4 separate regions of the Homo sapiens genome follow, and all the other regions are linked to region 1. The links come from fine-mapping of genetic effects on gene expression. A gene starts in region 1. Each other region holds a variant in brackets. All regions are shown on one strand. Distances are between the middles of the regions. Region 1 holds the start of LPXN (leupaxin). Region 2 holds the start of OR5B17 (olfactory receptor family 5 subfamily B member 17). Region 3 has its middle 9.5 kb from the start of OR5B12. Region 4 overlaps LPXN (leupaxin).

The links. PIP is the estimated chance that this variant, and not a neighbour inherited with it, causes the effect. A credible set is the group of variants that fine-mapping cannot tell apart.
Region 2: its variant is the best candidate, but not a certain one, in a credible set for the expression of LPXN in whole blood (TOPMed, PIP 0.72).
Region 3: its variant is the best candidate, but not a certain one, in a credible set for the expression of LPXN in whole blood (INTERVAL, PIP 0.85).
Region 4: its variant is the best candidate, but not a certain one, in a credible set for the expression of LPXN in whole blood (TOPMed, PIP 0.69).

The regions. Positions count from the first base shown.
Region 1 is chr11:58,571,901-58,580,010 of GRCh38, reverse strand. LPXN (leupaxin) reads left to right here and starts at 4,155. Exons shown (of 9, transcript NM_004811.3): 1 at 4,155-4,251. The coding sequence starts at 4,239. ZFP91 (ZFP91 zinc finger protein, atypical E3 ubiquitin ligase) reads right to left here and starts at 948. Exons shown (of 11, transcript NM_053023.5): 1 at 389-948. The coding sequence starts at 729. ZFP91-CNTF (ZFP91-CNTF readthrough (NMD candidate)) reads right to left here and starts at 897. Exons shown (of 13, transcript NR_024091.1): 1 at 389-897. RefSeq lists enhancers at 1-570, 1,315-1,544, 1,264-1,956, 1,575-2,094, 2,115-2,194 and 3 more and a silencer at 475-894.
Region 2 is chr11:58,356,793-58,364,902 of GRCh38, reverse strand. It overlaps OR5B17 (olfactory receptor family 5 subfamily B member 17), which reads left to right and starts at 5,834. Exons shown (of 1, transcript NM_001005489.2): 1 at 5,834-6,779. The coding sequence starts at 5,834. The coding sequence ends at 6,778. The variant T/G (reference allele first, on the strand shown) is at 4,529.
Region 3 is chr11:58,447,669-58,455,778 of GRCh38, reverse strand. No RefSeq gene overlaps it. Among named protein-coding and RNA genes, the nearest start is that of OR5B12, 9.5 kb to the right of the region's middle. The variant C/T (reference allele first, on the strand shown) is at 3,847.
Region 4 is chr11:58,532,464-58,540,573 of GRCh38, reverse strand. All of the region lies in intron 7 of LPXN (leupaxin), which reads left to right. Among named protein-coding and RNA genes, the nearest start is that of OR5B21, 28 kb to the right of the region's middle. The variant T/C (reference allele first, on the strand shown) is at 4,792.

The DNA.
Region 1 (8,110 bases):
GTGTATTCCCTAAAGGGCATGTGATGTAATACTGGAGAGCCGCCTAAAGGAAAGGGATAGGGTGACAAAGGGGGTGCGGATGCCAGAAAGAGGGATGAGCCTGCGGGTGTCAGGGAGGAGGTGGATCACTAGCGAGTGCAGGGGTGTATCAAAAGATGATTTCGGGGAGTGGGGAAACGGCCCGACAAGCGAAGGTACAGGAGCGAGATGAGGGTGGCGCAGAGAGGAGGCACGAAGGCTCCCGGGGAAACGGTGTGACATCTGGCGTGCGGAGCCGGCAGGGGGCAGACCAGGCAGGATGTCACGTGGAGTAGGCGCTACGGGAGCCGAGAGGGTTGCGTACGGACAGAGGGGGGTCTTTCCCACCGCCTGAAAGACTGTTACTCACAGGAGTCGCGGACTCTTCTTGCCCTGAACTGGAGACGGGGACTTCGCGGCCTGGGGCTGCTGCCCGGGGACGTCGGGAGGCCTGGCGCTGGGGCTGCTCCTCCGCCGGCGGGGATACTCGGCCTTCCTCCGGCGGGACACAGCTGCGGCGGCGGCGGCCGCAGCGGCCCGGCCTCGGTCCCGACCTCCCCTCAGCACGCGGCTGCTAGTGGTCCCTGCAGGCGCCGCCGCGACCGCCTCAGGGGGCCGTTGTTGGGGCTCCTCCGGAGCCGCCTTGGCCGCCTCTCCCCCTTCCTGGTCCTGCTGCTCCGGGGGTCTCGGCTCTTCCGTCTCCCCCGGCATCGGGGCTTGTCCGTCCCCCACCCCCTAGTCCTAGGCGGCGGAGGCGGAGGCGGCGGCCTCGGCGCTGCTCCCCCCGCCCCCTCGCCTCCCGAAGCCTGCGGCTCACTCTCACCCTGCGCTCCTCTTTCCCCCCTCCCCTCCGCCCGGCTCCGAGGGCGCCCCCCCCACCCCCTGCCACTCAAGGTCCGCTACCGCTGGCGGCGCGCGCGCGCGCGCCACAGACGCTCAGCGGGCCAATCGGAAAAGAGGACAAGCCTCCTCACCCCGCCCCTCGCAGTCTTACACGCAGCGGCGCCCCAGGTTCCCTCCCCCACCCCTTCCTTCAGCCAATCAGGAAACGGCTAAAAGGGGAGCGCGCGAGGTTTCCTTCCCCGCGCACCCGTTCTCACCGTTAAACGGCTGTGTCTCGCGACAATCCCAAAGTGACCTTTTTCCCCCCTCCAGACTTCAACGCGCGCTAGGGGCAGTGCGAGGGGCAGGTCTCGCGAGGGAGGCGGGTGAGAAGAAATCGCACCTCTTTCCCCGCCTCACGCAAACCCTAGACTGGCTGCGCGCGCACCTGCCTCCCTGAGGAGCCACTGATACCACAAGGGCTCTTTCTATTCTTCTTTAGGCCGCAGAAGTAGCCTGGGCGTTCTTCCGCCTCCACCCTACCCCACTTTCCTGTCTTTGGCCTTTCTGTCCCCAGCGCCGCCAGATCTTGCGCGGAGAAGGGGGTAGTATTTTGAGCTGTCGCTTCTCCTTTAAGAAAAAAAGCCCCGTCGGTTGCCGGATGAAAGTCTCTGAAAAAATGGCGGCGGCAAAACGGAGGCGGGGTTGTGGGGGCAACGAGGGCCCGCCTCTTGGCGCATGCGCACCGTTAACTTAACCAAGGGCATTCTGGGAGATGAAGTCTTATTTCGCCTAGGCTTTAGGAAAAATAGATGGGAAACCAGAGGTGGAGAGGATGCCGGGAGGTTCTAACTGAGTCACGACGGGAAAGGTAGTTTACTTTCCGCAGTCTAGAGTTTACCTTTTTTTCGGGAGGCAGTGTTTCCGGGTTAGGTCGCGACGCGTGCCGTACATCCGGGCTCAAGCGTCGAGCCAATTGCTGGTCTGATGGGAGGGTTTTTCCTACTTTTTCTTACTTTTTATCTGGGCGTTGGCGTACCTTTCTCGGGGTGTCTGCGTAACTGCCCAGACTTGCCTTGGTTTGGTCAGATGACACCTCCTCTGGGACTGGCTAGCCAGCGTTCATGTCTACATTATTGATCTCGTCTTCCGGTGTGTGAGTCACTCACCTGTGAGCTCCTAGAGGTCAGCGACTAAATCTGGTTCCATGGGGTCCTTGGGCCCTCGGAGCCCTAGCACAAGGCCCACTACTCAGTTGGCTCTTAATCAAATCTGTGAAACGAATTATAAAGTTGCTTTTCTACTAGACCTTGTTGGGACACCAAGGAGCCGGCGTCGGTTGCTTAACTTGGATGCGGTGCCTGACCTAGAGGGAGGCGAAAGGGTTGTGAGCGTGACATGACTGGTGACCTACACCGAGAAGCTGAAGGGTCTCTTAAGCTCTGCGGCCGGAAGCCATCTGCTTCTGCGGTTTATACAATAGCAACTTTATCAGAGGTTACTTTTCTGCACGCTAGCGTATGACATTAATTTGTCTTCCTGATTCATCAAAGGGAATTTCCGTTGCAGTTGGTGATGCAGTGGGCCTCTCCCATTTCTTTTTTCTTTTCATCCATTACAATCAAGGAACGATTTGCAAGAACATCCTTTACCCCTGGAAAATAAGGCATCCAGGGCTAAAAGTCCCAAAAGAAAGAAGCTGGAAACAAGATCTGGGGATCCAATTTTAAATTTCACATTAATCATTCAGTTAAACTGTAGACAAGTGCTGAAGTACATTTTTCCTTCCAGTACTTTGACTCAGATACCACTTCATATTAGACAAATGTTTTATATTCTCTACTGAGTATTTTCCATTTTCATAGGGCTAATGTCATTTTCAGTTGTAATAATCGATTGGCATAGTGTCAATGGAAATTTTTTAAGATTGAGTTTGTAGTGAGCAGACTTTTGGAAGGAACAGTGCTGACATCCAATGGATGCTCAAAGTAATACAGAGGAGGAATCTCCTTTCAAAAAAAAATGTACAGACAGTGGAATGGAGAATGAATTATTCCCTAAAAAAAAAAAGCCACTGTGGGCTGGATGTGGTAGCTCACCCCCGGAATCCCAGCGCTTTTGGATGCCAAAGTGGGAGGATCCCTTGAGCCCAGAACTTCCAGACCAGCCTGGGCAACATAGGGAGACCACCCTCTACATAAAAAATAAAAATAAAGCTTTTAAGCTAACCTGGTGGCGTGATGGGATGCACCTCTGGTCCCAGCTACTCCAGAAGCTGAGAAGGGCAAATCGCTTGAGTTCAGGAGTTCGAGTTGGAGGTTACACTGAACTATGATAGTACCTTTGCACGCCAGCCTGGGTGACAGAGAGCTTGTCTTAAAAAAAGTAAAGAAGGCTACGGTGTTGTAGAGGAAAGATCCCAGACTTTGCAATTATAGTAAGTAGCAAAGCTACCAATTAATTATCTTAGCAAGTTGCTATTACATGAACCTATTTCACCATTGGTAAAAAGGGGGAAAAAATCTATTTCACAGGGCCATAATTATAGTTCCTTACGTATTGCTTTTTTATAGTAGGCCTTTTGTAAATGTTTAATTCAAGGTGAATAAATCACAGTGGTAAAAAAGGTGAAGAGTTAACCTCAGTGTTACTTTCCAAAGAAATTGCTATAAGGCAGTGTATCTAGGCAGGGATTATGCTTAATTGAGATGCACACAGTTTAACATCTGGTGTCAAACCTGGCTTCCTTCTTTGTGACCACCCTATAGATGTTTGCTTTTGGGACCACTGAGTAAACCAGGCCCTGAGAATCCAAGCATGAATCCACTTCTGCCCTACTTTTAAGGATTTACGTTCCATGCAGGAAAGCAGATAACCATAATTTCTGAATAAATAAGACAACAAAATGAAATGGATGCTGGTCAACTCTGATGCAAATTTTAAGAAGGAGACTATGCCTCTGTGTCTCCCAGCTTCACAGAAAAAAAAAAAAGAAAAAAGAAAGATGCTCAGAGTGGGGTACCTACACTTGGAAAAAACGCAAGTATAAGTCTGCCATTCCCATGAATCCAAGATGAATCCTGGCACAGAGTAGGTCCTCAAATTTTGCAAAATTAATTTTGAATCTTTATCACCCTGGCCAATGCACTGCCATAATGCAAATCTTACTATCTACCTTTCTATGTCAGTCACATTTTTAAAACTGTGTAACCTATGAAAAAAAAAAAAAAGCTCACCAAATCAAAAGAGAGGAAGTGCTAAGCAAATACAGGAACCAAAAAGGTTTATAGAGGCTGCCTTATGCTGTCTCATCCAGTTCCTTTGCGGTCCTCTTCTTCAGCACATGCCAAAGCTGTTCCTCACGGCCTGTGAGACAAGAGCATCTTGGATGTAGGACAATGGAAGAGTTAGGTGAGTGAGGAGCCTGAGGAGAAACTCTGAGGGAGTGAAGACTTGGCTGCCATCTCCTTGTGTGGTGGGGTATACTTCTGGCTAGACTGAGGGTAGTAATGGAAGATTTTATTTTCACTTCTTTCCTGTCCTCAGCCCTGCCAAGAGTGAAGCATGAGGAACTATGATTGTTTTGGGGAACTATGGGTTCACTGTTTGCAGTGGCAAAATAGATGGAGAGTTTGGTGCTAACCGCGGAATAAACTCTTGGCAAATACTTTTGGACTGGATTGTTACTGCAGTTGTTGTCTTGTTATGGGCGTTTTGCCCTTTGGAGGTCACTGGAGATCAAGGGTGGCCACATAGCGAGACAATGCAGAGATATGATTTGAGGAGGAAAAGAAAGAGCAAAAAGGGAATTGGGGTGTTATGAGGAAGAAAAGACGGACTAGAAGTATAAGAATGAGGGATCTGTAGAGGTTGGAAAAAGGCCAGAGTGGTTTCATTTGTTCCATGTTTTAGTATTAAATCAAGAAGGCATAGCACTCTAACTCTAGTGATTTTGTTGCTAAGCTTTTTATTCAGAAGAATTCTGAAGGAAGAGATTACTAGGGCCTGAAAATATGACACCTCCTTCCACTCTAAGACAATTAAAACCAGCAGTGGAACTATTAACCATATTAACCAGAGAAATCCTGGATTTCAAACCTTTGGAGTAATGTAAGGTTTGTCATTCTTGGGACTCATTCCATAGCCTTTGCCAACATCTGTTGCCAGCATCTTAACTAACACTGAGTCACTAAACTATACCCAATTTCCAAACTGTATTAATTCCACAGTGTCCTGGTTTGGGGTGTGTTTGGGGATAGGGTATGTCAAAAGTGCAAAAAACAACAACAAAAAATATCTTGCACATTGTTACATTGTCTTAAAAAAAATGGCGTGTGATTTCAAAGCTGGAGAAACAGAGGAAAAGTAAAGGGCAAATTACCAGGAGGCAAGAGATGTTAATGAAGAGAAAAAGGTAGTGTTTAATAAATATCAAACTGCTTTGGAGGTAAAGTCTATTTTGATATTGGGCCAGACTCTTTTTTGGACTTGGGGTAGAATTCTATTTCTTATCCTACGTGAGTGCTGGGAGAATGTGAATTTCTGCTTGAGTTCTAGTAGTGCTAGGGCCTTTTTTCTTTTTCTCTTTCTTTTTTTTGGGGGGGATGGAGGGGACACCGAAAGGCTTTCATGGCAAATAATTCAAAAGGAAACTAATACTTATTTAGTAAATCAAGCAAAAACTAGACATTTTTACATATGTTAATCATTTTAGTGTCTGCAGCAACCCTCTGAAATAGGTGTTATCCACTTCTTTTTCAGATGAGAAAACTAAGAAAAACAAAATAACTTTTTCAATGTCACTGTCGGGAACACCTGACACCAAAACTAAGCAACAAGGTGCTCTCCTATTTTAGAAGTTTATTGGTTCTGGTGTCTGTCCAATGAAGTAACCCAGATTTAACAGAAACTTATATTGTTTTGCATCTCCTGAGCAGGCTAAATGTTAGGTAAATCTTGTCTGGAAATACAGAAAGTACCAAGTAGCCTGGAAGCTAATATTTGTGCAGATTATCCAGTTGGCTACGTCTCCACAGGCTGTTGATGGCTACACTTCAACAGTTTCTTCAAATTGTCATCAGCCCAGTAACTACCCTTGAGACTTGGTGTGGATCTTTCTTCCTGCTGGCAGAGAAATGGCATCGAGGACAGGTTGGCTCAAGTGAGCAAATATTTCCTGTCTGCAGTGGTGCCTCAGAGGCTAGCAGCTTGTATACACCCAGAAGGTTTTACCTAAACCCTCATTACGTAGGCATTAGGCATGATAGATAAAGAGGAACCAGGAGCAGATTCTGCCTCCGAATGAAATCCATGCAACCCTCAGAGACTCCCAAGAGACCTCACTTTACTCCTTTCATGTTAATATTGATATTATTTCATCTCCACAGTAAAAGACTACAGAGAAGAATTATGGAGTCTTCAGTCTAGTCCCCACTTCCCCCGCCCCCACTCTCCAGGAATCCCATATTTGTCATACTGAAATTAGTCATCTTCAAATTACAAAATCTGGCAAAAGGCATAATAACCTCACAGTGTTGGTGATATGCACACTCATATGAAACAGGAAGAGAAAAGCCTATAACTCATGACCCAGAAAGAAGGGTTTTGATAACTTTGGTTAGCTGGTGCTTCTGAGGGCAACTTCCTACTCTTTGTGGTATGGTTTCTTCTCTCTTATAATCTTTATTGTAAATGGCTTTTTATTTTGAGCTCAGGAGGATCTTTGGCTTCTAGTTAGAGCAAAGCTTAGAAAATAGAAAAGAAAGGGGCTCTAGCATAATTGAAAGATGTAGAATAAAAATTCAAAATTCTCAAATTTGGTGTGGGGTCTGGCTAATAAAAATCTGAGGCAAAAAGTTTTCTTTCTTTTTCTACCTTAGTTTTCTTTTCTTTTTCTTTCTTTTCTTTTCTTTTTTTTTTTTTTTGAGACGGAGTTTTGCTCTTGTTGCCCAGGCTGGAGTGCAATGGCACGGTCTCGGCTCACCGCAACCTCTGCTTCCCAGGTTCAAGCGTTTCGCCTGCCTCAGCCTTCCTGAGTAGCTGGGATTGCAGACATGTGCCGCCATGCCTGGCTAATTTTGTGTTTTTAGTAGAGACGGGTTTTCTCCATGTTGGTCAGGCTGGTCTCGAACTCCCAACCTCAGGCGATCCGCCCGCCTCGGCCTCTCAAAGTGCTGGGATTTACAGGCATGAGCCACCATGCCCGGCCTATTTGTCCTTCTTTTTAAAAAACTTCTATTATAAAGAAATTTAAGTATGCAAAAGTAGAGAAAATAGTTTAATGAATTCTGATATACCCATCAACCAGTTGAAACAATCAGTTCTTCATCAGTCTTACTTCATATATATGCCCACCCATTCCTTTCACCCCTGTAATTATGTTAAAACAATTTCAGATGTCATTTTATCTGTAACTATTTTAACACTGACCTCTAAAATAAATATATATTTATACATATAACTGTAATGCCATTGCCATAACAACAGCCTTAATATTAATTCCTTAATATTGTAAAATACCATTATCACACCTAAAAACTTAACAGAATTAATTAATATTATTAAATATCATTATCACACCTAAAATAAACAGTACTTACTTGATATTATTTAATATCCAGTCAGTGTTCAATAGTCTTGATTGTTTCATTTTTACAGTAGATTTAATGATCCAAATAAAGTTCATACACTGAAATTTATTATAAGTCTCTCAACTTTTTAATGCCATAGGGTCCCACTCATCTCTTTTTTCCCATTACAGTTATTCATTTGCCCGAGAGTTTAGTTCAGTTTGCTTATCTCTAAAATGGTACATAAAAGTCAACATTTTTGATAAATGGATGATTATGAAAGATCTGTATATTTCATTTGTTAAAAAAAAAAGGATTAGATCTCTTCTAACGCCATTAAGAAATATTCATTCCTCCAAAATCTAAAATAAATGAAAAATCTGTTTTTTTTTTAATGACCTGTGAAGTTTATTTTCCTTATCTGAGAACTTTAGATGTAGGCAGGTCCTTAGAAATAATGTAATTATGTGTTTAAAGTTTGAAAGCTAAAATCTGTGGTAAGAAGTCCGCTAGAGATCCACTAATGCATTATTGAGCCATAATTTGAAAAATACTGTTCTAATCAAATTGCCTTGTTATGTAGATGAGGAAACTGCATCAGAGAAGGATGTGACATGCTCAAGGTAACCCAGAGAATATATATAAGACAGGAGACTGGAACTTCTAACTTTTAGTTAATGCAGGGGCTAGGGATCAGATAG
Region 2 (8,110 bases), 220 kb after region 1:
TTCATATTTATTTTTTTAAAAAGGCTGCTTGGATTTAAATTGTGATTGCAAGGAATCTTCAGAGCAGTCAACATAAAGTCTCTCAATTCATGAATATAATATTTCTATACACTAATTTCAATTATTAAAACTTCATTCATCAGGATTCTATATTTTTCTGCACTTTTAAGACATGTATCCTAAATACGCTCAAAGAGCTAAATGAAATCTTGAACAAGAAACTAAAGGAAGCTAGGAAAAAGATATTTCAAGAAATAGTGAACTATTAATAAAGAAACAGAAATTATAGAAAGTAATTAGAAATTCTGGAACAGAAACCAAAAATAGATAAGATAGACTATGGAAAATAGTTTAGTGTTTTTTTGTTTGTTTTTGTTAGTTTGTTTGTTTGTTTTTTATACATAACTGCCATAAGATCCAGCAAATGAACTCCTGGGCATTTTCCCAGAAACATGATTATTTATGTTCACAAAAATAACTGTGTGTAAATGTTTATAGCACCTTTATTTATAGTAGTCAAAAATTAGAAACCATGCTGGAAACCATTCAGATATCCTTCCTTGGGTGAAAGGTTAACAACTTGTAGTACATCCATCACATTGAATACTACTCTCAATAAAAAGGAATAAACTGTTGATACATTCAAAAACCTGGATGAATATTGGGAAGAATATGCTGAGTAAAAACAGCCAGTCTCAAACGGTCACAAAAAATCCAAGGCATAATTCCACATACATAGAACATTTGTGAAATGACAAAATTATAAAATGGAGGACAGATTTTTTTCCAGTATTTAAGAAGGAATGGGGTCATGGCTATAAAAGGTCAGCATGAGGGATCCTTGTGGTGATGGAAATGTTATATATCTTGAATATATTAACTCGTCATTTACATTAGGTATATCTCCTAATGCTATCCCTACCCCCACCCCCACAACAGGCCCCTATGCAGCCAAAAGACACATCAAAAAATGCTCATCATCACTGGCCATCAGAGAAATGCAAATCAAAACCACAATGAGATACCATCTCACACAAGTTAGAATGGCGATCATTTAAAAAGTCAGGAAACAACAGGTGCTGGAGAGGATGTGGAGAAATAGGAACACTTTTACACAGTTGGTGGGACTGTAAACTAGTTCAACTATTGTGGAAGTCAGTGTGGTGATTTCTCAGGGATCTAGAACTAGAAATAGCATTTGACCCAGCCATCCCATTACTGGGTATATATGCACAGGAGAATAAATCATGCTGCTATAAAGACACATGCACACGTATGTTTATTGCGGCACTATTCACAATAGCAAAGACTTGGAACCAACCCAAATGTCCATCAATGATAGACTGGATTAAGAAAATGTGGCACATATACACCATGGAATAATTTAGTATTCCATAAAATGCAGCCATAAAAAATGATGAGTTCATGTCCTTTGCAGGGACATGGATGAAGCTGGAAACCATCATTCTCAGCAAACTATCACAAGGACAAAAATCCAAACACTGCATGTTCTCACTCATAGGTGGGAATTGAACAATGAGAACACTTGGACACAGGAAGGGGAATAAAGGGTTTCTTTAGTGAGTAGGTTATGCCTGAAGAAAACTGGGCCTTAGTCTATCAGGAACCACTGGAAAACTATCAAATATGTCTCAAAGTTATACCACCTGAAAAAGTAGGAATTGGGTTCTTATCACTCTACTTCTATCTATCATGTACTGATTGCTGATACCACAGAAATTAAAATGTTCCACACCACAGAAATTAAAATGTTCCACACATGGGCTGAACCTACTTTTACAGCAAATTCTAAGCCCTAAGTCTGCAAAACGCAAATTTCACATTCTTTATTTCACAATAAGTATTGGCCTGCACATGGACAACACAAGTGAAGAGGGGATGGATAGAACACTAACGATATTTGCTAGGAAATAGTAATTTGAGATAGAAAAGAAGGCCATCCACCTATTTATCTGAATCAAATTTTTGAATTGAATATAAATATTAAGGAATATTCTAATCTTCATTTCTCTGACACCTATGTTATATTTATCAGTTGATTGTAAACACAAGAAAGTAAAACAGGGATTATGTTTATCAATCTACAAATTCAGTTGCTATCAGATATAACAAGTTATAAAATAGAAAGTAGAAAAATGAATAAAAAGAAAACAAAATAAATATTTGACATGTATTACACATCAATAATACAGTAAATATAAATAGATCAACACACTGCTCATGTATGTAATAACAACTTAATAAAATTGGGGGAGAAAAAAGGCATGACAGCAATTACCACAAATAAACATGTATGTGACTCAACACAAACTCTATCACTGGATGCTGTGTAATTGCCTCTTCCCTAGATAAGTGAGATAAAGGAAAGCTATTGCCCTCATAGGGACGCTGTTTCCCAGAGAGTTCCATACATGTACACTTTTCTCCTGGCTGCCAGTCAGTAAGATCTGAAATCATAGTATGGCTCCACATGACGTTATTTAAAATGGATAAGACTCTAACCAGAGCCACTTTAATCTTCATTCATCCAAATGAAAGCTAATACTTTTAGTGCACAATCTGGTCTTTCCTGAAACTGAGAATATTGCAGTGATTCTCCAACCAAAGGCAGAAAAAAACTTCCCAAGATAAAAATTGTATTGGTTCATGATGAAGGGATAACAACTTACTAAGGTCTGTATAGGTCCACTGTCATTTTCTCTGTATAGATACAATTGTGTGAAGTTGTGGGAGAAAACATTTTCTCATTTCTATTCCACAAATGAGGAAACTGAGCTCAGCAGAAAATAAATAAGTTTTTCAAGTTCACAGAAAAACCCATGGTACATGCAAAACCTGAACTCAGACTTTCACAACACAGAAAAATGATACAACATAGAAAAATGACATGTTTGAGTTAGCACTCCATGTTAATAATTCTTTCTCCACCTCTTTATGCCTCAAAAAACTTGAACATTTCTGAAAAGTACATGATAGAGAATTTCTCCAATGTTATTTAGGCATTCTCCCAAGAATGAATTTCTGATTTCAGACTCACAATTGAGAACTGCCTTTTTCTTCTTTTCAAAGAGCAAGGTAAGCCTCTATATTCAATATATACTTTTGGTGAAATATGTAATTGATGCAAAAGCAGTGTGGCAGCTACATCTTGTATGAGTTTTTGAGCTCAGATCTACTTGTTTGAACATTTTTTCTAAAACATGGAAGTGGGTCTAGCATTCATTGTTTAAAAAAAAAAAAGAAAACTTAACCAGCAGATACAGTGATATTTATGAAATGCCGTGCTGCTCTCCCTAAGATGGTAGTAAAACCCTAGGCTGGATGATGCTCTGATTGAGTAGGTGGTAAATGTATCTGGTTTATTATGTGTTGGTTTGTCGCTGAAGGAATAGCTCCCCCAAACAGGGTGCAACAACTCTTCAATAGACTTCAGAAAGATTATTATGACACTACCAAGATCCCTATTCCATTTTTACTATCATTTCCTCACAATCTCACTTTTTCATTACTTGCTAATCTAGAAAATCTGACATTGCAGTGATTAAAGGCACAGAAATTGGAATAGGTTAGACATGGGTTTGAATCTTGAATTTATCTTACTAAGTGTAGAATATGAGGAAGGTACAAAACTCCTCTAATCTCCCAATATTTAACAGCAAATGGGGTTATATATCTGTCTGTATAAATACTCTCTCTCTCTCTCTCTCCATGCTCTGATATCTATGTCTGTCAATCTATCATCTCTCTATCATTCATGAAACAAACTGGTTCATAAGTACAAAGGCTAAGCTGCTAGTAACTTTAGAAGATCTGATTTATAAAATCAATGTATTCCAGATATGTGAACTTGAGAATTTAATACTTTCTCTGCTCCTCTAGTGATTCATATATACAATTAGGAAGTTGGCTATGTGATCTGTGAAGATGTCTCAACCATTTCTGATTCTAGAGATAATTTACCTATGATATATAATATTCATACTCATTATGGCAGCCTTAATAATGTTCCCCAAAGGTGGTCATATCTTAACTTCTGAAACCCATAAACATGTGGCCTTATGTGATTTTTTTACAAACTTCACAGTGATTAAATTAACATGTTGAGATGGTAGGATTATCCTAGATTATCCAGGTAGGTACAGTGAGAACCTTTCAGTTGTCATAGAACATAGTAAATTTTTAAAGAAAAACAATAAAAATTGTAGCTTATATTATTATGTGGGTAGTTTTTTGGCAAACAAATAATTTGAATTCTAGAAGTGTCAACTGATGTGTACTGGGGGCAGGAGAAAAATGATAGACAATCAATAGTGGTTATGAGGAAATGAATGTCCTTCTGACAGATTCAAATTCAAATAAAAAGATTGTGCATAAACACATCTGCAGCCTACAGTCAGCCCCCAAGACTACGAACCTCCAACCCTCAATATCTGATATCCTGCTAAGTGTTGAGAGTAATGACAGGAAGAATGTGTCTAAGATAAAAGGGGATTGTTTCAACACAAGG[T/G]AAAATGTAGTTTGAAAGGGAGAAATTAAACACAACAGGACTTGAAGATCCCTGGGTTCTCATGCTAGATGGCTGACACAGTCATTCACCTGGCAAAGAATGGATAGAGTGAGAAATGCTGAAGGAAACAAAAGACTGGACATAGTGTGTAAGAAAATACAGATCAGACAGAGTAAAACTGCCAACTTGAAAACCCACCCACACCTTCAGCCCTGTGTGTCACCTCTATGTGTTCTACACCAACATATGCACCACCATTCCATCCTAATAATAATATTATAGCTAGCACTCATCAGGACTGTGCTGAGTGCCCACATTTTGCCAACAGCTGAGCATTATCTCATTTAACTCTCAAAATAATCTCTTGACATAAGTCCTAATATCATCTTCATTTGACTAATGGATAAAATGAGATTCAAGGAAGTTAGATTAAGACCAGTGTCTCCCAAGTAGTAAATGTTAGGGCTTATGAGTTAATACAAATCTACCTCTTCTTAGAGTCCTAGATTTTATACCCAATGCTATATCTTCTCTGCAGAATTGGCTTTGTTGGTTGCACATGACATTAATGCTGCATTTATTCCACTTCATCTAGTATGCATTTATTTGTGCATTGCTCTACTATGCAACTTCATATGTTATGCTTGGTATAATAGATAGAATGAGTACATATAAATAGATTAACATTTAAAATAATTCAAATTCATTAAAAGAATTTTAATTCTTTTAATTTAGGTTGGGAACCACCCTGATTGTGTCTAAAGCTTGGTTCTATCTACTGGTGCTTGTGTAATCTTGAATAAATTATTCAAACTCTTTTTTTCTACCAAGATACTTCATGTATAAATTGGCAATAATAACTAATTAAATAATAGGATTAATGAGAGAATTCTATGAGGATGTACATATAAAGCATCTGGCATGAGACAACTATAAGTGTGTTTAAGATGTTAGATTCAAAAAACATATTATTTGGGAGATAGATTCACTTCAGGCATGTGACATTGGACAACTCATTATTCCCTTCCTATGACTCCATTTACTCAGACACAAAATTAAGAAGCTGGAAAGATGATCCACGAAGACCCTTTTTCTTCAAAAGTCTATTACTGTATAGATAAGTTATCCACTAAATTGTGTTTTCATATCCATAATTTTGATCTAGGAAATATAGAAAACAAATCATTGCTATAATAAAATAACACATACATTTCAGTTTTGTGCAACTCTGTTTTGTTCATCACAGGGTTTTTCTTTTTTATCTCTCCTTGCTACAGAGTATCTTGTGATTCTAAAATAACATCCATGGAGAATAATACAGAGGTGAGTGAATTCATCCTGCTTGGTCTAACCAATGCCCCAGAACTACAGGTTCCCCTCTTTATCATGTTTACCCTCATCTACCTCATCACTCTGACTGGGAACCTGGGGATGATCATATTAATCCTGCTGGACTCTCATCTCCACACTCCCATGTACTTTTTTCTCAGTAACCTGTCTCTTGCAGGCATTGGTTACTCCTCAGCTGTCACTCCAAAGGTTTTAACTGGGTTGCTTATAGAAGACAAAGCCATCTCCTACAGTGCCTGTGCTGCTCAGATGTTCTTTTGTGCAGTCTTTGCCACTGTGGAAAATTACCTCTTGTCCTCAATGGCCTATGACCGCTACGCAGCAGTGTGTAACCCCCTACATTATACCACCACCATGACAACACGTGTGTGTGCTTGTCTGGCTATAGGCTGTTATGTCATTGGTTTTCTGAATGCTTCTATCCAAATTGGAGATACATTTCGCCTCTCTTTCTGCATGTCCAATGTGATTCATCACTTTTTCTGTGACAAACCAGCAGTCATTACTCTGACCTGCTCTGAGAAACACATTAGTGAGTTGATTCTTGTTCTTATATCAAGTTTTAATGTCTTTTTTGCACTTCTTGTTACCTTGATTTCCTATCTGTTCATATTGATCACCATTCTTAAGAGGCACACAGGTAAGGGATACCAGAAGCCTTTATCTACCTGTGGTTCTCACCTCATTGCCATTTTCTTATTTTATATAACTGTCATCATCATGTACATACGACCAAGTTCCAGTCATTCCATGGACACAGACAAAATTGCATCTGTGTTCTACACTATGATCATCCCCATGCTCAGTCCTATAGTCTATACCCTGAGGAACAAAGACGTGAAGAATGCATTCATGAAGGTTGTTGAGAAGGCAAAATATTCTCTAGATTCAGTCTTTTAATGATGCAAAATCATCACAATGTTATTTTATCTCACTTAGATCTACTTTATACAATAACTCAAATGTTAAAATGCTATATGGTATATAGAATGTAAAATTTCATCTAATATTATTTTTGTCTTTAGTTGAGAAACAGTTCTAAGTATCCACGAGTTAGAAAAATACGATGACAATTTCTCATGGAGTTTAATGAAATATGTGTTGTCTCTTGTCATATTTTAGCCAACTATGAGTCATTACTGTTTCTTAATAAACTAATATTTCAGGCATTAATAATTTTAGGTATTTGGTACAGCTTGTTCATATGACAATTTATAAATGGTAAATAACTATATTAGAATAATAATATATTAGAATTAAAAGGCAGAGATAATTCTTTTTTTTTTAAACTTAGCCTATGACTATCAAAGACATCTTGAACTGAGAGAAAGAAATAAAAGAATCTCTGTTTGCTATTTAAAATATAAAATCATGACCTGGCCCAGTGGCTCATGCCTGTAATCCCAGCACTTTGAGAGGCCAAGGCAGGTGGATCACTTGAGGTCAGGAGTTCAAAACCAGGCGAGACAACGTGATGAAACCCTGTCTCAACGAAAAATACAAAAAAATTAGCCAGACATGGTGGTGGATGCCTGTAGTTCCAGCTACTTGGGAGGCTGAGGCAGGAGAATCGCTTGAACCCAGGAGGCGGAGGTTGCAGTGAGCTGAGATCGTGCCGTTGGACTCCAGCCTGGGTGACAGAGCGAGACTCCGTCTCAAAAAACAGAAGATCATAAGTAATCCCCTAAAAATTATTAGAACTAATAAATCAATTCAGTAAAGTGTCAGGGATACAATAACAACATACCAGAATAAGTGGTATTTCTATATACTAGCAATAGGTAATCTAAAAATAAAATGAAGAAAATTCCATTTACAGAACCATCAAAAATAAGATGCACAGTAAAAACGATTACAAAAAGAACTGCAATGCTTATATTCTTAAAACTATAAAACCTAGTTGAAAGATGTTCAATAAAATCTAAATAAAGGAAAACATTACTTGATTATGAACCAACATTGTACAGCTGGCCACATTCCCTAATTGATATTCAGATTAAATACACTTCCTCTCAAATCCCAGCTGGCTTATTTGCAGAAATTGGTAAACTTATCCTAAAATTCATAAGGAAATTTAAAAGCCCAGAATAATATTTTAAAAAGAGAACAGAGTTGGAGTCCTCTCACACCACAATTTCAAAAGTTACAACAAAAACTGTAGTAATCAAGATAGTATGGTAATGGCATAAGAATAGACATATAGACTAATGGAATAGAATTGTGAACCCGGAA
Region 3 (8,110 bases), 120 kb after region 1:
ATTTTTGTTATTTCCTTATTTCTACTAGCTTTGTATTTACTTTCATTTTTTTTTCTAGTTTACTAAAGTGTATACTTAGGTTGTTTATTTCATATATTTCTCTTTTCTTCATGGGTGGCATTTATCACTAAAACTTTCCTCTTATAGCGGTTTTTCATCCATCCTATATGTTTGGTATGTTGTGTGTTCATTTTTGTTTGTGTCAAGATATTTTAAAATTTCCCTTGGATTTCATGTTTGACCCATTGGTTGTTCAAGCATGTGTTCTTGATTTTTACATACTTGTCAGTTTTCTGAAATTTCTCCTATTGTTTTCTAATTACCATTGCAGTTGGAAAAGACACTTGATAAAACTGCAATCCTCTTAAATTTTTAAGACTCGTTTTTTGGCTCAATATATAATCTGTTATAGAGAATGTTCCACATATGCTGCTGTGGGATGAAATGCTCTGTAGGTCTGCAGGGATGAAATTACCTTTTAGGTCTGTTAGTTTTATTCACTCTAAACCCTAATTCAATCCAATGTTTTCTTATTGATTTTATTCCTGAATGATCTATGCATTGTTGAAAGTGAGGTATTGAAGTCCGTTGTATTATCAATTGCTGTATGTTTTTCCCTAAACACCTATTATTTGCTTCACGTATTACGGTGTTCTGATGTTGGGTGCATGTATGTTTATAATTGTAGTAGCCTCTTGATGGATTGTTCCCTTTATCATTTTATAATAACCTTCTTCATTCCTTTTTGTAGTTTTTGACTTAAAGTCTATTTTGTGTGATATAAGTATAGCTACTTCTTCTCTCTTATGGTTTCCATTTGCATGGAAAATCTTTTTTCATCCCTTCGCTCTTAATTTATATATGTCCTTAAAGCTTAAGTGAGTTTCTGTTGGCAGCATTTAGTTGGGTCTTTTTGTTTTTTATCCATTTAGTAATTCTTTGATAGAAGAACTTATTTACATTTAAAATGGTTATTAATAAGTAAGAACTTACTATTGTCATTTTGCTAATTATGTTCTGGCTGTTTTGTAGATCCCTTTATTCCTCCATTGCCATTTTTCTTTACAATTTGTTGATTTTCTGTAGTGGTATGCTTTGATTTCTTTTCATGTTTTGTATATTCATGATAGATGTTTGATTTTGATTACCATGAGGCTTACTGAAAATACTTTATAGTTATATCAGTTTATTGTTTTAATTTTATTATTATTATACTTTAAGTTTTAGGGTACATGTGCACAATGTGCAGGTTAGTTACATATGTATACATGTGCCATGCTGGTGTGCTGCACCCATTAACTCGTCATTTAGCATTAGGTATATCTCCTAATGCTATCCCTCCCCCCTCCCCCCACCCCACAACAGTCCCCAAAACAAGCAATGGGGAAATGATTCCCTATTTAATAAATGGTGCTGGGAAAACTGGCTAGCCATATGTAGAAAGCCAAAACTGGATCCCTTCCTTACACCTTATACAAAAATTAATTCAAGATGGATTCAAGACTTAAACGTTAGACCTAAAACCATAAAAACCCTAGAAGAAAACCTAGGCATTACCATTCAAGACATAGACATGGGCAAGGACTTCATGTCTAAAACACCAAAAGCAATGGCAACAAAAGCCAAAATTGATAAATGGGATCTAATTAAACTAAAGAGCTTCTGCACAGCAAAAGAAACTACCATCAGAGTGAACAGGCAACCTACAAAATGGGAGAAAATTTTCACAACCTACTCATCTGACAAAGGGCTAATATCCAGAATCTACAATGAACTCAAACAAATTTACAAGAAAAAACCAACAACCCCATCAAAAAGTGGGCAAAGGATATGAACAGACACTTCTCAAAAGAAGACATTTATGCAGCCAGATAACACGTGAAAAAATGCTCACCATCACTGGCCATCAGAGAAATGCAAATCAAAACCACAATGAGATACCATCTCACACCATTTAGAATGGCAATCATTAAAAAGTCAGGAAACAACAGGTGCTGGAGAGGATGTGGAGAAATAGGAACACTTTTACACTGTTGGTGGGACTGTAAACTAGTTCAACCATTGTGGAAGTCAGTGTGGCAATTCCTCAGGGATCTAGAACTTGAAATACCATTTGACCCAGCCATCCCATTACTGGGTATATACCCGAAGGACTATAAATCATGCTGCTATAAAGACACATGCACACGTATGTTTATTGCGGCACTATTCACAATAGCAAAGACTTGGAACCAACCCAAATGTCCAACAATGATATCAGTTTATTTTAAGCAGATAACAACTTAACTTTGATTGCATATAAAAATACTACACTTTTGGCCGGGCGCGGTGGCTCACGCCTGTAATCCCAGCACTTTGGGAGGCCGAGGCGGGTGGATCATGAGGTCAGGAGATCGAGACCATCCTGGCTAACAAGGTGAAACCCCGTCTCTACTAAAAATACAAAAAATTAGCCGGGCGCGGTGGCGGGCGCCTGTAGTCCCAGCTACTCGGGAGGCTGAGGCAGGAGAATGGCGTGAACCCGGGAAGCGGAGCTTGCAGTGAGCCGAGATTGCGCCACTGCAGTCCGCAGTCCGGCCTGGGTGACAGAGCGAGACTCCGTCTCAAAAAAAAAAAAAAAAAAAAAAAAAAATACTACACTTTTATCCCCCCCCCTCCACATTTTAGGTTTATGTCATAATTTATTTCTTTTTATATTGTGTATCTTTTTATAAATTATCGTAGCTATAGTTATTGATATAGTTTTGTGTCTTAACTTTTATACTAGAGATATAATTGATGTCCACATCATCATTACAATATGATGTTGTACTTACTTTTACCATGAGTTTTTACTTTCATATGCTTTTATGCTACTAATTAGGATCCTTTTATTTCAGCTTGAAGAACTCCCTTTATCATTTTATGTAAGACAGGTCTAGTATTTATGAACTCCCTTAATTTTTGTTTGTTTGGGAAAGTTATCTCCTTCATTTCTAAAGGACAACTTTGCCAGGCAGAATATTCTTCATTGGCAGGTTTTTGTTCTTTCACTACTTTGAATATATTATCTGCTCTCTCCTAGCCTGCAGTTTATTCTGATAAATACACTGATAGCTTTTGGGGGGGTTCCCTTCCATGTGAGTATATATATTTTTTTCTTTGCTGCTTTCAAAGTTCTCTTTTCTTTATTTTTTGACTATTTGCTTATAGTATGTCTTCTTGTGGTTTTCTTTGGGTTGAATCTAATTGAAGACCATTGGCTTTTCTATGCTTGGATATTTATATCTTTCCCTAGATTTGATAAGTTTTCTGCCATTTTAACTTTAGGTTTCTGTTCCCTTTCCCTTTCTTCTTATTCATTAAGGTTTTTAATGCTAAAGTTAACTATCTTGATGCTGTCTCATAAATTTCATAGGCTTGTGTATTTATTTATTTATTTGTTTTCCATAAGTTATAGGGGTACAGGTGGCATTTGGTTACCATGAGTAAGTTCTTTAGTGGTGATTTGTGAGATTTTGGTGCACCCATCAACGAGCAGTATACGCTGCACCGTATTTTTAGCCTTTTATCCCTTGCTTCTCTCCCACTCTTCCCCACAAGTCCCCAAAGTTGATTGTATCATTCTTTTTTTTTTCATCTTAATGCAAATGTTTAATTTCTGTTTTATTTACTTTTGGTTTACATTTTCATATATATTTATAGTTTAAATAGGTGCAATCACATTACACTGTACTTTTTTTAGTTAACATCATACGGTAAACATTTGAAGCATTCTTGCATGTTTCTCCCTAGTCTTTATAATTACTGTTTTCCTAGAGTCGTGATGGTGCATCAAGTTGACAGATCATACTTAATCAACCCCCT[C/T]TTACTGGGTGTTTATATTACTACCACTGCTTAGGCAGTGAAGCCTGTAAAAGAGGTGCTTTTCATCCATCTTCATAAATGTGGCTATGGAGTGTAGCAGCTCGAGAGCCTGCAAGGGATGTTGTGGATTCTGGTTCCCACATCAAGGAGATGCAAGCTGGCCTTCATTATAAGGGCTGCATGACTGAGGTTGGGTACTACAACCCTCGAGTCTTCCTCTCTGTTCTCTCTTTTAGGTCCTTCTCCATGAAAAAACTACAAAGCAAATCAAATCCACTGTGCATAGGATGTAAAACCTATGTTTTCCAGAAGAAATCTAATGTGTTTGAATGAAAAATTCTCTAGAGCATCAATTTGATTTAACAAAATGTATTAAGGGGCTGCTATATGGTAAAATTGCCGTGGTTAACCTCAAAAGCTGTGACTCAGAGAGACCTGGAGTTATATTTCTGCTCTGTTCTATAATGATTGAATAGCCACAGCAAGTTATTTCATCTTTCTCAGACACAGTTTCCTCAGTTGAAAAAATGAGAAGCCCATGATTTAATACAAGTAAAATATTTAGCATGTCTATGGCACACAGTTAGTGTAGAATAAAGCATAGCTATTATTATTATTGTTGTCTTTATTATGTGTCTTCCAGGCTAAGCACCTTAGGCAAGTTATATTACTCACAGAAGCCTCTATTTCCATATCTATAAAACGGAACTCATACTAGTATCTACCTTTTTTTTTTAATATATACTTTAAGTTTTAGGGTACATGTGCACAATGTACAGGTTTGTTACATATGTATACATGTGCCATGTTGGTGTGCTGCACCCATTAACTCGTCATTTAACATTAGGTAAATCTCCTAATGCTATCCCTCCCCACTCCCCCCACCCCACAACAGGCCCCGGTGTGTGATGTTCCCCTGACTGTGTCCAAGCATTCTTATTGTTCAATTCCCACCTATGAGTGAGAACATGCAGTGTTTGGTTTTTTGTCCTTGTGATCGTTTGCTGAGAATGATGGTTTCCAGCTTCATCCATGTCCCTACAAAGGACATGAACTCATCATTTTTTATGGCTGCATAGTATTCCGTGGTGTATATGTGCCACATTTTCTTAATCCAATCTATCATTGTTGGACATTTGGGTTGGTTCCAAGTCTTTGCTATTGTGAATAGTGCCACAATAAACATACGTATGCATGTGTCTTTATAGCAGCATGTTTTATAAGCCTTTGGGTATATACCCAGTAATGGGATGGCTTCTTACACCTTTATGTGCTCATAGCTTAGCTCCCATATATCAGTGAGAACATACAATGTTTGGTTTTCCATTCCTGAGTTACTTCACTTAGAATAATAGTCTCCAATCTCATCCAAGTCTCTGCAAATGCTTTTCATGCATTCCTTTTTATGGTTTGGTAGTATTCCATTGCATATATATATGTATATACTACAGTTTCTTTTTCTTTTTTTTTCAGAGGGTATTCCACTCTTGTTGCCCAGGCTGGAGTGTAATGGTGCAATATCAGTTCACTGCAACCTCTGCCTCCCAGCTTTAAGTGATTCTCTGGCCTCAGCCTCCTGAGTAGCTGGGATTACAGGCAGCACATCTGGCTAATTTTTGCATTTTTAGTAAAGATGGGGTTTCACCATGTTGGCCAGGCTTGTTTTGAACTCCTGACCTTAGGTGATCCTCCCTTCTCAGCCTCCCAAAGTGCTGGGATTATACTACAGTTACTTCATCCACTTGTTGATTGGTGTACAGAAGGGGTCTTGCTATGTTGCCCAATCTGGTCTCAAACTCAGTCACATTTGGGTTGGTTTCACAATTTTGCAATTGTGAATTGTGCTGTAATAAACGTGCGTGTGCAAGTATCTTTTTTGAATGATGACTCCTTTTCCTCTGGGTAGATACCCAGTAGTGGGATTGCTAAATCAAATGGTAATTCTACTTTTAGTTCTTTAAGGAATCTCCACACAGTTTTCCATAGTGGCTGTACTAGTTTACATTCACACCAGCAGTGTAGAAGTGTTCCCTGATCACCAAACCACATCCACATTAACACCTACTGTTTCTTTATTTTTGATTATTGCCATTCTCGCAGGAGTAAGGTGGAGTCGCATTGTGGTTTTGATTTGCATTTCTCTGATTATTATTGATGTTGAGCATGTTTTCATCTGTTGGCCATTTGTATATCTATTTTTGAGAATTGTCTATTTACTTCCTTAGCCCGCTTTTTCATGGGATTGTTTGTTTTTTTCTTACTGATTTGTTTGAATTTGTTGTAGATTCTAGATGTTAGTCGTTTGTCAGATGTATAGATTGTGAAGATTTTCTCCCGCTCTGTGGGTTGTCTGTTTACTCTGCTTACTATTCCTTTTGCCAGGCAAAAGCTCTTTAATTAGTTCCCAGCTATTTATCTTTGTTTTTACTGCATTCGCTTTTGGGTTCTTGGCCATGAAATCCTTGCCTAAGCCAATGTCCAGGAGGGTTTTTCCAATGTTATCTTCTAGAATTTTTATAGTTTCAGGTCTTAGATTTAAATTCTTAATCCATCTTGGGCTGATTTTTGTATAAGGTGGTCAATGTGCTTATTTTTATGCCAGTACCATGCTGTTTTGGTGACTATGGTCTTACAGTATAGTTTGAAATCAGGTAATGTGATGTCTCCAGATTTGTTCTTTTTGCTTAGTCTTGCTTTGGTTATGCAGGCTCTTTTTTGGTTCCATATGAATTTTAGAATTGCTTTTCCTAATTCTGTGAAGAATGGTGGTGGTATTTTATTGGAAATTGCATTGATTTTAGATTGCTTTTGGCAGTATGATCATTTTCACAATATGATTCTTCCTATCCATGAGTGTGGGATGTGTTTTCATTTGTTTGTGTTGTCTATAATTTCCTTCGGCAGTGATTTGTAGTTTTCCTTGTAGAGGTCTTTCACCTCCTTGGTTAGGTATATTCCTAAGTAAAAAGTTTCAGGTATTAGGCTTAAGTCTTTAATCCATCTTGAGTTGAATTTTGTATAAGGTGAGAGATGAGGATCCAGTTTCATTCTCATACATGTGGCTAGCCAGTTATCCCAACACCACTTGTTGAAAAGAGTGTCCTTTCCCCACTTTATGTTTTTGTTTGCTTTGTTGAAAATTAGTTGGCTGTAAGTATTTGGGTTTATTTCTGGGTTCTCTATTCTGTTCCATTGGTCTATGTGCCTGTTTTTATACCAGTACCATGCTGTTTTTTGACTATGGCCTTATAGTATAGTTTGAAATCAGGTATGCCTCCAGATTTGTTCTTTTTGCTTAGTCTTGCTTTGGTTATGCAGGCACTGTTTTGGATCCATATGAATTTTAGAATTTTTTTTTTCTAATTCTGTGAAGAATGATGGTGGTATTTTTATGGGATTGCATTGAATTTGTAGATTTTTTTGGCAGAATGGTCATTTTCACAATATTGATTCTTTTGGTGTCCATTTGCATGAAATGCCTTTTTCCACCCCTTTACTTTAAGTTTATGTGAGTTATGTAAGTTTATGTGAGTCCTTATGTGTTAGCTTGGTCTCCTGAAGGCAGCAGATAGTTGATCAGGGAGTTCTTATCCATTCTGTGGTTCTGTTCAATGTTAGTATTGAAATGTGAGGTATCATTGCATTAATCGTGCTCTTTGTTGCCTGTGTGCTTTGTTTTTTGTTTTTGCTTTTTCACTTGTATTTTTGTTTTATAGGTTCTGTGTGATTTATGCTATTTTCATGTGTTTCCAGGATTTGTTTCAAGATTTAGATCTCCTTTTGGCGGTTCTTTTAGTGGTGGTTTGGTAATAGTGAATTCTCTCATCATTTGTTTGAAAAAGACTGTATCTTTCCTTCATATATGATGCTTAGTTTCACTGGATACAAAATTCTTGGCTGATAATTGTGTTTGAGGAGGCTGAAGACAGGGCCCCAATCCCTTCTAGCTTGTAGGGTTTCTGCTGAGAAATTTGCTGTTAATCTGATGGGTTTTCCTTTATACGTTACCTGATGTTTCTGTCTCACAGCTCTTCAGATTCTTTCCTTCATCTTAACTTTGGATAACCTGATGACAATGTACCTAGCTGATGATCTTTTTGAGATGAATTTCCCAGGTGTTCTCTGTGTTTCTTGTATTTGGATGTCTAGGTCTCTAGCAAGGCCAGGGAATTTTTCCTCAATTATTCCCCCAAATATGTTTTCCAAGCTTTTAGAATTCTCTTCCTCCTAATGAACACCAATTATTCTTATGTTTGGTCGTTTA
Region 4 (8,110 bases), 39 kb after region 1:
CCCATCCATCCACATTTTTTCTTGCTGGAATATTAAGAAGCAAGTTTAGAAGTCATGTAATCTCATCATTAAATACTTCGGCATGCATCACTTTTAGCTGAGAAGGTCTTTTTAAAAACTACCTTTATGCTTAACAAATTAAGAATTTCTTATTATCATTTACAATTCCTATTCAGATTTCTAAGAAAATATCACAGGCTTGGTTTGCTTGAATCAGGATCTCAGCAAGGTCAGTGCATTGCATTTTGCTGTTTTGTCTCTCAAATTTAAAAAATTCTATTATTAGTCCTCTCTTTGCTGCTTTTTTATACTATTTATTTGTTAATGAATCCAGAACCTATATCCCATAAAATATCCCATATTCTTTATTTGACTGGCTGCTTTCTCATGATACTGTTTTTTGCTTTACTCCTGCCCCCATTTCCTATATTTTCCTTAAACTATTAGTTTAGACCTAGAGATGACTAGGTTTAGGTTCAGTTTTCGGGGGTCTGGATGACAAGAATAGGTTTCAGGTGGTGGGTGCAGTATACTTCTTGTTGAATCACATCAAGAGGTGTATAATGACTGGTTGACCACTTTTATTGATACTAACATTGACCACTAAATTTAAGCAGTGTCATCCCGATCCCTCTATTTTAAAGTTCCCCATTAATGACAATTACCTAAATCCAATGGAATAGGTAGTAAAATGCTGAGTTTTCTATTATTCCTTCCATATTTATTAGCTGAGTTCTACAAAAACTTTCTATCATCAGTTATTGGGTTATCTTGGAATATATCTCATACAGGAAAGGTGAGATAAGTGTTTGACACTTTCTATTAATAAGAGTAATGAATTAATTATAAGGGTAATGAATGGGTTCATTAACAATATCCAGTGGAGACTAATAAATTTTTATTTTTAAAAAATCATTATGAACTCATGGAGTTATATATACTTGGTATAATTTGATCTATTGAATTAGTATTTTTTAATGCTCAAATTTTTTTATCTGAGGTCAGAGGTAGCCCCTTCAATTTGGTTACTGTATCTTTCTGATATGATCCCAGTAATCTTCCTATTTCCTTGGCACAGCAAGATATATCAGGCCTAACTTGTCAACTCTGCCACATACTTGGAATCATCCATTTCTCCAAAAAGACTGCTTCATTGAGGATATTTAAAAATTAGCAGTGTTCATTATTTCTGGGATGTCATTTCTTCTAGGTTTTTCAGTGGACAGAGCTTCAGATCTACTTTTTAAGGTTTTTAAATTTTATAGAGACAGGATCTCATGCTGTCTCCCAGGCTAGAGTTCAGAGGTGCTATCATAGCTTGCTACAGCCTTGAACTCCTGGACTCAAGCGATTCTCCCACATCAGCCTTCTGAGTAGCTGGCACTACAGATGTGTACCACCAGGTCTGGCTAATTTTTTAAAATTTTTTGTAGAGAGTGGGTCTCACTACATTGCCCAGGGCTTGTCTCGAACTCCAGGCTTCAACCAGTCCTCCCGCCTCAGCCTCTCAAAGTTCTGGGATTACAGGCAGGAGCCACTGCGCCCTGATAGAATCTGTCATTGTTGTTGTTTTTTTTAAAGAAAAGTAAGTCATGAGTTCATACTAATATATCTGATATAGTATAATGATACAGTTTTTTGTTTGATTTGTTTGATTATTTGTGTCTTTTTTAATGCTGGAAATCTTGCTTTCCAAAGGCATTAATATAATTATTTGCTTTATTATGTAATCTACCTGTAATAAGTTCAAAAAATATATAAATATTGTAAATGAACAAATTATTTTTATTGTGTATATATATTGTATTATTTTATTGTATATTTTAAGGTACACAACATGATATTTTGATATACACAGTGAAATATTTATTACAGTTAGGCAAATTAACATATCCGTCCTCACTCACAGTAACCCTTTTCATGTGTATATGGTAAGAGCATCAGAATCTACTCACAGCAAATTTCCAGTATATATAAAAACAGTTTAAGACACTTCTCAAAAGAAGACATTTATGCAGCCAAAAAACACATGAAAAAATGCTCACCATCACTGGCCATCAGAGAAATGCAAATCAAAACCACAATGAGATACCATCTCACACCAGTTAGAATGGCAATCATTAAAAAGTCAGGAAACAACAGGTGCTGGAGAGGATGTGGAGAAATAGGAACACTTTTACACTGTTGGTGGGACTGTAAACTAGTTCAACCATTGTGGAAGTCAGTGTGGCGATTCCTCAGGGATCTAGAACTAGAAATACCATTTGGCCCAGCCACCCCATTACTGGGTATATACCCAAAGGACTATAAATCATGCTGCTATAAAGACACATGCACACGTATGTTTATGGCGGCACTATTCACAATAGCAAAGACTTGGAACCAACCCAAATGTCCATCAGTGATAGACTGGATTAAGAAAATGTGGCACATATACACCATGGAATACTGTGCAGCCATAAAAAATGATGAGTTCATGTCCTTTGTAGGGACATGGATGAAATTGGAAATCATCATTCTCAGTAAACTATCGCAAGGACAAAAAACCAAACGCCACATGTTCTCACTCATAGGTGGGAATTGAACAGTGAGAACACATGGACACAGGAAGAGGAACATCACACTCTGGGGACTGTTGTGGGGTGGGGGGAGGGGGGAGGGATAGCTTTAGGAGATATACCTAATGCTAAATGACGAGTTAATGGGTGCAGCACACCAGCATGGCACATGTATACATATGTAACTAACGTGCACATTGTGCACATGTACCCTAAAACTTAAAGTATAATAATAATAAAATAAAATAAAATATTTCTTTGTAGCTTGTTTTGTCTTTAGATTGCATCATTAGGACTGTACACTCTGAACACTATCATTTAAAGTTACTTGAATGAACTATTTCGTTTTTATTATTATTATACTTTAAGTTCTGGTGTACATGTGCAGAATGTGCAGGTTTGTTACATAGGTATACACGTGCCATGGTGGTTTGCTGCACCCATCAACCCATCATCTACATTAGGTATTTCTCCTAATGCTATCCCTCCCCTAGTCCCCTGCCTCCATCAGGCCCCAGTGTGTGATGTTCCCCTCCCTGTGGCCATGTGTTCTCATTGTTCAACTCCCACTTATGAGTGAGAACATGCGGTGTTTGGTTTTCTGTTCCTGTGTTAGTTTGCTGAGAATGATGGTTTCCAGCTTCATCCATGTCCCTGCAAAGGACATGAACTCATTCTTTTTTATGGCTGTATTTTATTCCATGGTGTATATGTGCCACATTTTCTTTATCCAGACTATCATTGATGGGCATTTGGGTTGGTTCCAAGTCTTTGCTTTTGTGAATAGTACTGCAATAAGCATATGTGTGCATGTGTCTTTATGGTAGAATGATTTATAATGCTTTGGGTATATACCCAGTAATGGGATTGCTGAGTCAAATGGTATTCCTGGTTCTAGATCCTTGAGGAATCACCACATAGTCTTCCACAATGGTTGAACTAATTTACACTCCCACCAACAGTGTAAAAGCATTCCTATTTCTCCATATCCTCTCCAGCATCTGTTGTTTCCTGACTTTTTAATGATCGCCTTTCTAACTGGCGTGAGATGGTATCTCATTATGGTTTTGATTTGCATTTCTCTAATGACCAGTGATGATGAGCTTTTTTTTTTCATATGTTTATTGGCTACATAAATGTCTTCTTTTGAGAAGTGTGTGTTCATATCCTTCAGTCACTTTTTGATGGGGTTGTTTTTTTTTCTTGTAAATTTGTTTAAGTTCTTTGTAGATTCTAGATATTAGCCCTTTGTCAGATGGATAGATTGCAAAAATTTTCTCCAATTTTGTAGATTGCCTGTTCACTCTGATGATAGTTTATTTTGCTGTGCAGAAGCTCTTTAATTTAATTAGATCCCATTTGTCTATTTTGGCTTTTGTAGCCATTGCTTTTGGTGTTTTAGTCATGAAGTCTTTGTCTATGCCTGTGTCCTGAATGGTATTGCCTAGGTTTTCTTCTAGGAATTTTATGGTTTTAGGTCTTACGTTTAAATCTTTAATCCATGTTGAGTTAATTTTTGTATAAGGTGTAAGGAAGGGGTCCAGTTTCAGTTTTCTGCATATGGCTAGCCAGTTTTCCCAACACCATTTATTAAATAGGGAATCCTTTCCCTGTTGCTTGTTTTTGTCAAGTTTGTCAAAGATCAGATGGTTGTAGATGTGTGGTGTTATTTCTGAGGCCTTTGTTCTGTCCATTGATCTATATATCTGTTTTGGTACCAGTACCATGCTGTTTTTGTTACTGTAGCCTTGTAGTATAGTTTGAAGTCAGGTAGCATGATGCCTCCAGCTTTGTTCTTTTTGCTTAGGATTGTCTTGGCTATGCAGGCTCTATTTTGGTTCCATATGAAATTTAAAGTAGTTTTTTCTAATTCTATGAAGAAAGTCAATGGTAGCTTGATGGGGATAGCATTGAATGCATAAATTACTTTGGGCAGTATGGCCATTTTCACGATATTGGTTCTTCCTATCCAGAAGCATGGAATATTTTTCCATTTGATTGTGTCCTGTTTTATTTCCTTGAACAGTGGTTTGTAGTTCTCCTTGAATAGGTCCTTCACATCCCTTGTAAGTTGTATTCCAAGGTATTTAATTCTGTATAGCAATTGTGAATGAGTTTCACTCATGATTTCGCTGTCTATTATTGGCGTATAGGAATGCTTGTGATTTTTGCGCATTGATTTTGTGTCCTGAGACTTTGCTGAAGTTGCTTATCAGCTTTAGGAGATTTTGGG[T/C]TGAGATGATGGGGTTTTCTAAATATACAATCATGTCATCTGCAAACAGAGACAATTTGACTTCCTCTTTTCCTATGTGAGTACCCTTTATTTCTTTCTGTTGCCTGATTGCCCTAGCGAGAACTTCCAACACTATGTTGAATATGAGTGGTGAGAGACGGCATCCCTGTCTTGTGCCAGTTTTCAAAGGGAATGCTTCCAGGTTTTGCCCATTCAATATGATATTGGCTGTGGGTTTGTCATAGATAGCTCTTATTATTTTGAGATACATTCCATCAATACCTAGTTTATTAAGAGATTTTATCATGAAGGGGTGTTAAATTTTATCAAAGGCCTTTTCTGTATCTATTGAGATAATCATGGTTTTTGTCATTGTTTCTGTTTATGAGATGGATTATGTTTATTGATTTGTGTATGTTGAACCAGCCTTGCGTCCCAGGTATGAAGCTGACTTGATCGTGGCGGATAAGCTTTTTGATATGCTGCTGGATTCAGTTTGCCAATATTTTATCGAGGATTTTCACATTGATGTTCATCAGGGATATTGGCCTGAAGTTTTCTTTTTTTGTTGTGTCTCTGCCGTGTTTTGGTATTAGCATGATGCTGGCCTCATAAAAATGAGTTAGGGAGGATTCCCCCTTTTTCTATTGTTTGGAATAATTTCAGAGGCAATGGTATCAGCTCCTTTTTGTACCTCTGGTAGAATTCTGCTGTGAATCCACCTGGTCCCGGACTTTTTTTTGGTCGGTAGGCTATTAATTACTGCCTCAATTTCAGAACTTGTTGTTGGTCTATCCAGGGATCTGACTTCTTCCTGGTCTAGACTTGGGAGAGTGTAGTGTCCAGGAATTTATCCATTTCTTCTAGATTTTCTAGTTTATTTGTATAGAGGTGTTTACAGTATTCTCTGATTGTAGTTTGTATTTCTGTGGGATCAGTAGTGATAACCCCTTTATCATTTTTTTGTGTCTATTTGATTCTTCTCTCTTTTTTTCTTTATTAGTGTGGCTAGTAGTCTATCTATTTTGTTGATCATTTCAAAAAACCACCTCCGGGATTCATTGATTGTTTGAAGGGTTTTTCATTCTCTATCTCCTTCAGTTCTGCTCTGATCTTAGTTATTTCTTGTCTCCTGATAGCTTTTTAATTTGTTTGCTCTTGCTTCTCTAGTTCTTTTAATGTGATTTTAGGGTGTCGATTTTAGATCTTTCCTGCTTTCTCTTGTGGGCATTTAGTGCTATAAATTTCCCTCTACACACTGCTTTAAATGTGTCCCAGAGATTCTGGTACTTTGTGTCTTTGTTTTCATTGGCTTCAAATAACTTCTTTCTTTCTGCCTTAATTTTTTTATTTACCCAGTAGTCGTTCAGGAGCAGGTTTTCAGTTTCCATGTAGTTGTGCGGTTTTGAGAGAGTTTCTTACTCCTGAGTTCTAATTTGATTGCACTGTGGTCTGAGAGACTGTTTGCTATGATTTCTGTTCTTTTGCATTTGCTGAGGCGTGTTTTACTTACAATTACATAGTCGATTTTAGAATAAATATGATGTGGTGCTGACAAGAATGTATATTCTGTTGATTTCGGGTGGAGAGTTGTATAGATGTCTATCAGGTCTGCTTGGCCAAGAGCTGAGTTCAAGTCCTGAATATCCTTGTTAATTTTCTGTCTCATTGATCTGTCTAATATTGACAGTGGGGTGTTAAAGTCTCCCACTATTATTGTGTGGAAGTCTAAGAGTCTTTGTAGGTCTCTAAGAACTTGCTTTATGAATCTGGGTGCTCCTGTATTGGGTGCATATATAATTAGGATAGTTAGTTCTTCCTGTTGCATTAATCCCTTTACCATTATGTAATGCCCATCTTTGTCTCTTTTGATCTTTGTTGGTTTAAAGTCTTTTTTATCAGAGACTAGAATTGCAACCCCTGCTTTTTTTTTTCTTTCCGTTTACTTGGTAAATATTCCTTCATCCCTTTATTTTGAGCCTATGTGTGTCTTTGCATGTGAGATGGGTCTCCTGAATACAGCACACCAATGAGTCTTGCCTCTTTATCCAATTTGCCAGTCTGTGTGTCTTAATTGGGACATTTAGTCCATTTACATTTAAGGTTAATCTTGTTATGTGTGAATTTGATCTGGTAATTATGATGCTAGCTGGTTATTTTGAAGAACTGTTATGAACAGTTTCTTCATAGCATCTATGGTCTTTACAATTTGGTATGTTTTTGCAGTGACTGGTACCAGTTATTCCTTTCTGTGTTTAGTGCTTCCTTCAGGAGCTCTTGTAAGGCAGGCCTGGTGGTAGTAAAGTCTCTCAGCATTTGCTTGTCTGTAAATAATTTTATTTCTCTTTTGTTTACGAAGCTTAGTTTGGCTGGATATGAAATTCTGGGTTGAAAATGCTTTTAAGAATGTTGAATATTGGCCCCCACTCTCTTCTGGCTTGTACAGTTTCTGCCAAGAGATCCGCTGTTAGTCTGATGGGCTTCCCTTTGTGGGTTACCCAACCTTTCTCTTTGGCTGCACTTAACATTTTTTCCTTCATTTTGTGTCCGAAATTGGTGGGTTCTTGGTCTCACTGACTTCAAGAATGAAGCCGCGGACCCTTGCGGTGAGTGTTACAGTTCTTAAAGATGGTGTGTCCGGAGTTTGTTCCTTCTGATGTTCAGACATGTTCGGAGTTTCTTCTTTCTGATGGGTTTGTGGTTTCGCTGGCTTCAGGAGTGAAGCTGCAGACCTTCACGGTGAGTGTTACAGCTCTTAAGGCGGTGCGTCTGGAGTTGCTCATTCCTCCCATCTGGAGTTGTTCATTCCTCCTGGTGGATTCGTGGTCTCGCTGGCCTCAGGAGTGAAGCTGCAGACCTTCGCGGTGAGTGTTACAGCTCATAAAGGCAGTGCGGACCCAAAGAGTGAGCAGCAGCAAGATTTATTGCAAAGAGTGAAAGAACAAAACTTCTACAGTGTGGAAGGGGACCCAAGTGGGTTGCCACTGCTGGCTCGGGCAGCCTGCTTTTATTCCCTTATCTGGCCCCACCCACATCTTGCTAATTGGTGCATTTTACAGAGAGCTGATTGGTCCATTTTACAGAGAGCTGTTTGGTCTGTCTTGACAGGGTGCTGACTGGTGCATTTACAATCCCTGAGCTAGACACAGAGTGCTGATTGGTGCATTTACAATCCTCTAGCTAGACACAAAAGTTCTCCAAGTCCCCACTAGATTAGCTAGACACAGAGCACTGATTGGTGCATTTACAAACCTTTAGCTAGACACAGAGTGCTGATGGGTGCATTTACAATCCCTGAGCCAGACACAGAGTGCTGATT